2 separate regions of the Homo sapiens genome follow, and region 2 is linked to region 1. Evidence: fine-mapped expression QTL. A gene starts in region 1. The other region holds a variant in brackets. All regions are shown on one strand. Distances are from middle to middle.

Region 1 (4,390 bases):
TATATATATATATATATATATATATATATAGAGAGAGAGAGAGAGAGAGAGAGAGAGAGAGAGAGAGAGAGAGAGTCATGCTTTGATGTATTTATGCATTAAAATGCCAAGGATAACTTTCTTTAAATCAAAAAGCACTAAATTTTGTTATGCTGTCAGCCCACCCTCATGTAGACATAGCTTAGTTTTTACATAGATAAGACCCCTCTATAAGAAGAGTTTAATATAAAGAGGGTGTGTTCCCCCTCTTGCTTTCTGAGGATGGCCTACTCTGTAACTGAGTAGCTTTCAATAAACAATCGCTTCTCACTGCACTCTGCAACTTGCCTTGAATTTCTTCTGGGCAAGATCCAATAACCCTCCCTTGGGGTCTGGATCGGGACCCCTTTTCCAGCAACAATATTGTTTCTTGAACTCGGTGGTTATGCAAGTGTGTCCACATTTTAATCATTCATTGAAATGTACATGTACACTTGTGATTTCTGCACACCCGCTTCAATTTTACAAATTTTATGCTCACAACCCATTGGGAGAGGTATATATACAGGGAAATAACTATGGATCCGTTTGGTAAACAAATGTAGAACTCAACTATCCTGCACTCTTGAAGCAGCTGACTCCAGTGCCGCAGGGGGCTACCTGCATGCCAATTCCACACCCAATAATCTTGGGCAGGTTACCAAAGTGTGAAGACCCTGACTGAAAAATGGGAGTAATAATACAACTACCTGATATTGTTGCAAGGATTTAATATAACTTATGTAAAGTGGGCAGAAGTGCTCCGCAGGCACAGAGCAGGTGCTCAATAAATGCCAGGACCAAAATACCACGAAACTGTAATTTTTATAAGGAAAAGGATCTTTTCTTCAGTGCTCAACGAGGAAATATTATGGGGCCGTGCGCAATAGCTGACGCCTGTAATCCCAACGCTTTGGAAAGACTAAGCGGGAGGATCGCTTAAGCTCAGGAGTTCGAGGCTAGCCCGGGGAACATAGCGAGATCCCTTCTCTACAAAAAAAATTTTTTTTAATTAGCTAGCGTTGCGCGGTGGCCGTATGGTGGCCAATGAGGTTTATCCGAAGCGCGATTATTGCTAATTGAAAACTTTTCGCAATACCCCACCGTGACGACTTGCAATATAGTCGACATCGGCAATTTTTAACAGTCTCTACGGAGACTATTTCAGTAAAAATAAATAAATATGGTGCGCGCCTGTAGTCCCCCCTACTGGCTGGCGCGGGAGGATCGCTTGAGCCCAAGATTTCCAGCCTGAGCGACAGAGCAAGACACCTTACCTAGAAAAAAAGAAAAAATAAATATTTTGGGTGAAATATCCAGGGCCGGCCTCCTTGGAGAGGGCGCTCTCACGAAGGAGCGTGGCCCGAGGTGCTGGGACGCGGGAAAGACGTCTTTCTGGACCGGTGCTGGGACGCGGGAAAGACGTCTTCCTGGACCGGTGAATTTCCAGCTCCACAGACTCCGGCCGCGCGCACACCAGCCCAGCTCCACTTTCTGCCGCCCGCGTCCCCTTTAAGACGGAGCCATGACATCATCCCAGACACTGCGCAGCCTACCTTGGCAACGCCGCGACCACTTTTTTCCGGACGACCTCAATTGGCTGGCCAGCCTCCGGAGGCCCCGCCCCCTTCGCGCAGCCAGCCCCGGGCACCTGCTGTCAATCGGGCCAGGTGGGAGCGATGATTGGCCGCCGGGCCCGCCCTCCAGAAAGCCCCGCGGGGCTCGCGTAGGCTGCAGGCTCGGGGAGGGAGGGCAGCGGCGCCGCGTCGGGAGCCGCCGCCGTCCCGGTCCTCCCGCCCGCCCGCCCATCCGGTGCCTCCTGCAGCCCGCCTGCTGGGCAGGGCCGGCGCGGCCCGGCCATGGAGTCCTACGACATCATCGCCAACCAGCCTGTGGTCATCGACAACGTGAGGCCCGGCAGCCAGGGGGAGGGCGGGCGCCCCGCCCCCGGGGGCGCACGCGGCGGCGCAGGGAGAGACCCCCGCCCGCCTCGGCGCGTCCTCCGCTCACTGCGTGGCCGTCGCCCCCGCCGGGCCGCTGGCTTCGCCCCGGGGGCGCGCGCCCTCTTGGCCTTGTAAGGCCGGCCATGGGGCGAGCCCCCTCGCCCGCGTCGCAGAGCCTCTTCCCCGACCCCTCCCCGAGTCGGGCGGGGAAGTTCAGGAGAGCTTGAGTGACAGCCGGGCGGCCGGGCGGGGACGCGCCCCGGACTCTTCTCAGTTGAGAGTGCGGTTCCTGGGCAGGTTTCCACACCAGTTCCTTTCCGCGTCCTTCGGCCCTGGCTCTGGCTGCCTGGCGGAGGTGGGGTAGCATTTGTCATTTGCACACTGCTGGCTTTATCTTTGGGGCTGCACCCCGAGGCAACAAATGCAGGATGCTCTGTCACCCACATGTCCACCACCATCTGGTTTGCCTTTTGGCTACTTTGACTTTCTCCTTAAATGCTTCCTGTGCTGAGCAAACATTCCACAGCCAGCAGAGCAATGGAGAGTTCATGGCCACTCTTCCCAGTATCAGCAAGCAATTTGGGGTGATCGTTTGGAAGCCTCAGAGGAAAGATGTCATCAGGCTTCCTGTGGCTTTGTCCTTCAGCAGTGGGGCTCGGCTTGCTTTCACCTGCCTTAGGAAGATTTCTGGCTTCCGAGCTCTGATATGGGGAGAAGATAAGGGCTGGGATCTTTGAGTCTGCCCCTAGCTGGGTATGTGCGTCCGGTGTGCGGGCCTTGGAGTTTTTGGTAATGACTCACTTGTGCTCTTTCTGGGATCTGTCTCCCTCCCACATGACCCCGTGGGGTCCCTGAATGACTGTTTTAGAGTACCCATGTGGGTTCCCTGAGTCACAGCAGGGGATGTTTAATAAGGAGGTTAGCACTGAGCTTGGGGACGTGCTGTCACACCAGCAGGACGCTGCAGGAAGGAGCAGGCTACTTCCTTTCTTGACGTGCAAATAACTCGTATAGGCTAATCAACAGGCTTATAAGTTAAAAGGGCTACCGCTCGGCCCCTTGGGGATTCCATCCCCTCCTCTGTAACTTGGAGATGTTTGTTTCTGCTGCAGACTCAGAGGGTTGCGATGAAGAGTGGTGGGACTGAGTTGAGAAGCTTATCCCTTCGCTGGGTGGGAGGTTTCTAATTGCCCCGTTCTTTGGGGGATCCTTAAGTCCAGCTTCCAGGTGGGGGCAGCGATAGGACCAAGTTCTCCTAGTAGTCTCTGGGAAGCCACTTGAGGGAAGCTGCCGGTCATCCCATGCACCCATTGGTCTTCTCCAGCAGGCCCTGTAGGTCGTCCATGTTCCATGCCTTCTGGGTTCTTGGGGGAGAAGGAAGCTGTTGAAAAAAAAAAAAAAAGACCCACACAGAGGGGTTTCTTCTAGCTTTTGGGAGTAGCATGTGCTATGGAATCCTGCTGGAGCCAACCATTAGTTGTGCAGAGGAAGGTGCCCTTCGTGGTTTCTCTATCTCTATATTATTGACATTCTGGGCTAGCTCCTTGTTGGTAGTGCAGGCTCGCCTGTGCATCGTAGGATGTTGAGCAGCATCCTTGGCCTCTGCCCACTAGATGCCAATAGCATCCCCCACTGCATGTCCCCTCTCCCCAGCTGCCAGACATTGCCAAATGTTGCCAGAGCAGGGGGATACAAAATTGCCCCCAATCTTGAACCATAGGTGTACTTGTAAATGATCCTGGCAGGGTCCCTGGCTTCCTCCTTGGCCTGCCTTGACGGGGCAGCCAGCTCTCTCCATTGCGGGGGACTGGCTTCATCTGGTGGTGCATGTGGGCAGCTCAACTTTGTTTTTCCTTGCAGGGTTCGGGGGTGATTAAAGCTGGCTTTGCAGGAGACCAGATTCCCAAATACTGTTTCCCAAACTAGTAAGTGTGGCTCAGGCAGCAGCCTTAGTCCTTTTGTTTACCTTCTGTAAGAACATTGGCCTTCTGTCACAGGGCTCTTTGAAGACAATTTGTGCCCTGACCTGTATGGAAAACACCAAATTTGTGAGGTTGACACTCTTGAGAGAGCACTGAAAGAACAAGACAAGCGTTCTAGGGTTCCCCTTTGTCTTGGGAGTCTCTCGTTTTGGTCTTGTTGAGCCAGCAAGGAGGAAAAGCAACCAGCATTTCCCTGGGGATGGGGTGTGGTAGCAGCAGCAAGAATAAAGGGAGACATCTCCGAGGGGAGCCCTAAACTCGGAGCAGGAAGAGTGAGGAATTAGATGCACAGCCACCCTTTCCTCCCTGGAAGTGTTTTCTGCCGGGCTTGTTTTCAGACTCTAGAAAATGTCTTGTTTCAGTTAAGAGGGGATCCTTTGCCCTGTATGGTACTGGTGGGGGCGGGAATAAGAATTGCAAACCCAGAGAGCCTGGGGTGCCCCTTGC
Region 2 (4,390 bases), 660 kb after region 1:
AAAAATAGAGAGTTTCTGTGCTGGATATGGGACAAGAGCCAGTTTTTGTAAGGTTTCTTGAACAGGAACAAAGAAACAAAATAATACAACAAACGAAATGGTTAACATCAGGTTACTCTTCTTGCATAGATGAAAGAATGGAGGACTTCCTTATCATGCTGGCTAAAGCTGGCCTGTTTTAGCATTTGGCTATTATGCATCCGTCCTGATTTTTTACTAAGTCAGGTAAACAATGTAATTAAAAACTCAGGGATGCAGAACTTTAGCAAGAATAGCTGCATTTTGATTTGGTCTGTTGGGGCATAGTCCAAATAAATGGCATTTTTAAAAATTTGAATTAACAGAATGTTTTTACATTTATCTCACATTTTTATAGTATTTTAGGATTTAATTTTCTATCCTTGTTATTCTTCTGAGGTTTCCTTAAAATGGCTGAGGACAGTCACCTAATACATACTGGAATTTTATACTTCTAACCTTTCTAACTTTTAGGAACACACATGACCTTATTTTATAGGGGGAGCTTAAATTCATTATTTTATTACTTGAAAATTTCAGAAAGAAAATATCTTTCTTTCTGAATTTTCTGGGAGATAGGCAGAATAATCTGGGAGATAGGCAGAAAATCTAGAGACAACTGAGAGAAGAGGGCAATATAATCACAATGTGGAAAAGAGATCAGTGGCAATTTTTTCTTTTAATCCAATCTTGGAAACAGATCATTTATTCACTCACCCATTCTTTAATCCCAGCCACCTGGAATTCCCTTGTGAGTCTCTTCCCTCACCTGTAGTTTATTTCCAAACATATTCGGGAAACATGCACAGAGAACACTACATTACCCTAATCCTATTAATAAAACAATCACTTTAATAGGAAGGAAGAAGCCTGTACGAATCAAAAAGGATGATCAAGACAAATTTCTGTGATTTTTTTTGTAGCATCGTGCATGGAGGATCGACATGGTTTCCACAGAGCTGGAGTCATTCAGGAAAGCTTCTTATATCGAGAGTGGTCCAGAAGAATTCTACCAAAGATTTAAGAAGTGTTTTTCTGCAACTCACATCTTCATAAGTATAAAGGGTAAAGATTCTCAGAATACAGCTCATGGATATCTGATTCTTAACAGGTAAGACAGATACTGTCCAAGAGCATTTCCAACAGGATAATATTGAGTAGTGTATCCTTCCATGCACCTGGAAAGCCAGGAATTAGAGAAAAGTATGAAGATGAGAAAGCAGTGTCATCTGCTGTTGTTGCAGTGATGGTACAAGCTCCAGCTTACCAAACTATCAGTGGGCAGCACACTGCCATTACTCAGTGAGGAGCTTTAGAACTAACTAGTAATGATACTCTTGGTGCACAGGGACTGCAGAAAAGATAATGGACTAGAGGAGCCACTCTATTGCTGGTGACGTACACAGTGCACTATCTAGAGACCACTGATGGGCAGAGAATGCTAGCAGCCAGTAACCAGGTTGTCGTACTAGCTGTCACAGAAAATGTGCCATCATCCCAGATTGGCATCCTCTATCAGCATTGTGCCTGGAGCTGGTAGGGCATCTTTCCAAGGTCCAACTGCTCAGCTTTTCAAAAGGCAGTGGAGAAGAGAGAGAGGCTGGCCCGAAAAGAAACAATGAAGCATCATGAGAATATTGTAGAAAGTATAAGGAAAATGGGAACAATTTAGAAAAGAAAATGCAGAACTTGGAAAAGCAAACAACTCTTTCATTAAGGACATAAATGCACTTAAGAGGTTTGTTATTGTAAAAAATAAAATAGATTATGTTTCAATTTATATGTTGTGTTTATTTGCATGGCAAGTTTCCTGACATTAGCTTTATTGAAAGAGCTATTTGTTCTGAAGAAAAGCAGCAGGAGTATCTCAGATTAGTACTGAAAAGCAAGGATACCATAAGGAAGAGTTTGGACTATGATAGGAGCTTCACTTGAATGCTGAGTTATAAAATCTGGTCAGGTAGTGGTGTGCAAGATGTTCTATAGGCAGAAAGAGGCAACAGCTAAGAGAGTAGAATAATTTCCATCGAAAGGAGCCTTGGTTGTTAGTCTAGGATACAAGTAACAGGCAGAGAGATGGAAGGAAAAACAATATAAAGAACATCTCTAGCCAAACATTTCAGATATTTCCATCTTATCCCTCAAAAGTACTTATCTAGGCCAGGTGCGGTGGCTCACGCCTGTAATCCCAGCACATTGAAAGGCTGAGAGCGGCGGATCACCTGAGGTCATCAGTTCAAGACCAGCCTGGCCAACTGGTGAAACCCCGTCTCTACTAGAAATAAAAATAAAAAATTAGCCGGGCGTGTTGGTGGATGCCTGTAATCTCAGCCAATTGGGAGGCTAAGGCAGGAGAATTGCTTGAACAGAGGTGGCGGAGGTTGCAGTGAGCCGAGATGGTGCCAGGGCACTCCAGCCTGGGGAACAGGGCAAGAGTCCATCTCACAAACAAACAAACAAACAAACAAAC[AAACG/G]AAAAACCAACTTGTCTAATGCGGTCCCATCTTCTCCAACCCAGAGCGTGTGAGGTGTGGATTCCTTATTTGGTCCTAAGCATTTGGCTGCATGGCTGAGACAGCTCTTCCTCTCAGTTGTGCTCTATGTCCTTGTTTCTCTGCTGTGATATCAATTTTGGGTGTCAGTTTGAGTGCGGACTTTCATGATTGACACGGGTGGCACTTTGTGGTATGTGTGACGGCAGATCCTCATCAGGACACAGATTCAGAGTTAGTTTCTCAGAAAATGAAGATCTCAGAGGGAAGAGCTGTGCCTAAACTAGCCCCGTAAAATTTGAGAATCAGTCAATTACTCTGCAGAAAAAGAAACACGCCTAAAATTTTACATGGAATTGTCTTCATTGACAAGTTTCTTGCCATATTTTAGTTTAGAAACTGTACATATGAGTAGGTGACTATGAAGTAATGGCAACAGTAACAACAAGTTGATAGTATTCCTAAATATAGAAAACAGCATTTTGCCTTTGTGGAAAGAGAAGAGAGGACATTTGCACAGAGGAGCGCCAGGCACCATCTGATGAGGGATGGGTACCAAGATTGGAAATGATTACAAGGAAATATATAAATGGCAATAGATAATAACCACTTTTAATTTAATTTATTTACCAATCCCCCAATTTAGTGAGGTGTACTTTGTATGTAAGATCTAGTTTTGTGATTCTTATTGTTTAAATCAAAGAAAGTAAATGGTTTTGTATCTGAATTGATGAAAACTCGAGCAGTTGCAGCTAACTTGAGTTTGGTAAAAATATCCAGAACCTGAACTGATTCTGTTAAAGCAGGAGGTCATATTGGAGAGGTCACTATAGACTCTGTATACAATCTGGATGGATGTTTTGGGGCCAAATTTTGTATTTCTCAAAAAGCAAAGTGGCCTCAATTAACATCAGAGGATCTAAACATATCTGCTCTGTTTTTGTCCTGTGTGAGATGTTGTGAAGTGGAACAAGGAAGAAAGAAAGAGCACAGCCATGAGCTACCATGGCAAGTAGCGGCCCTGAAACCAGAGTTCTACAGTACAGGGCTGGTCCTCAACAATGAAATACTAGCTGATACTGGGTGTCTAATTTGCAAGAAGAAGACCAACATACAAAGAAAGAGCCTTTTTACTAAGCATTAGGGGTTATGACAGAAATAAAATTTTTTCTAGAAATGATGAGACAGAAGCTAACCACCAAAATTACTCATGCAGGGAATATTGCCATAATAACCAACGAATGCATGTTTTACATGTTGGGAAGAGTTTTCTTAGGACTTCTTAATTTTCTTAGGACTAGCACCAGAAAAAAGCAAAAACATCTGGAAAAGACTGAATAAAAATTCCTTTCAAGGCCAGACATAGTGCCTCATGCCTTTAATCCCAGCACTTTGGGAGGCTGAGGTAGGAGGAAGGCTTGAATCCAGGAGTTCAAGATGAGCCTGGACAACACTGAGACCCTCCATTTCTATAAAAATATTTTTTTAAAAAATTAGCCAGGCATGGTGGCACACACTTTGGTTCCAGCTACTTAGGAGGCTGAGGCGGGAGGATCACTTGAGCCCAGGAGTTTGATGCTGCAGTGAACCATGATTGTTCCACTGCATTCCATTCTGGGCAACAGAGCTAGAGCTTTTCTCAACACCAACTAACAAACAAAAAAAGGTATTTTATTTCACTACAATATTTTATTTGTATATATTTACATGTGCACATATATGTGTGTGTGTTGATATATTTTAGAATAGAAGACAAACTTTAAGTCACTAGATGGATGACAGTTTGAGCTTACATCCCCAAACTGTAGCATGTGTTAGAATTATCCCCAGGGCTTGCTTTATAGATATTTCTAAACACCATCATATAAAGCTTATTGTAA

Direction of the effects. Alleles are on the strand shown, and positions count from the first base shown. SD is a standard deviation of normalised expression in the study named.
For the expression in subcutaneous fat of the gene that starts at base 1,724 in region 1, AAACG is the low allele of the variant in region 2 and G is the other (moderate effect, 0.45 SD a copy in FUSION).

What was found. PIP is the estimated chance that this variant, and not a neighbour inherited with it, causes the effect. A credible set is the group of variants that fine-mapping cannot tell apart.
Region 2: its variant is the best candidate, but not a certain one, in a credible set for the expression of ACTR1B in subcutaneous fat (FUSION, PIP 0.79).

Annotation. Positions count from the first base shown.
Region 1 is chr2:97,661,378-97,665,767 of GRCh38, reverse strand. It overlaps ACTR1B (actin related protein 1B), which reads left to right and starts at 1,724. Exons shown (of 11, transcript NM_005735.4): 1 at 1,724-1,925; 2 at 3,822-3,886. The coding sequence starts at 1,878. LOC124900516 (U4 spliceosomal RNA) reads left to right here and starts at 1,037; the gene lies at 1,037-1,177. It also overlaps a transcript of C2orf92 not described here and the pseudogene RNU4-8P. RefSeq lists enhancers at 1,206-1,545, 2,586-2,655, 2,621-3,262 and silencers at 1,626-2,085, 2,166-2,225.
Region 2 is chr2:97,005,736-97,010,125 of GRCh38, reverse strand. It overlaps the pseudogene LOC100421288. Among named protein-coding and RNA genes, the nearest start is that of FAM178B, 21 kb to the right of the region's middle. The variant AAACG/G (reference allele first, on the strand shown) is at 2,489.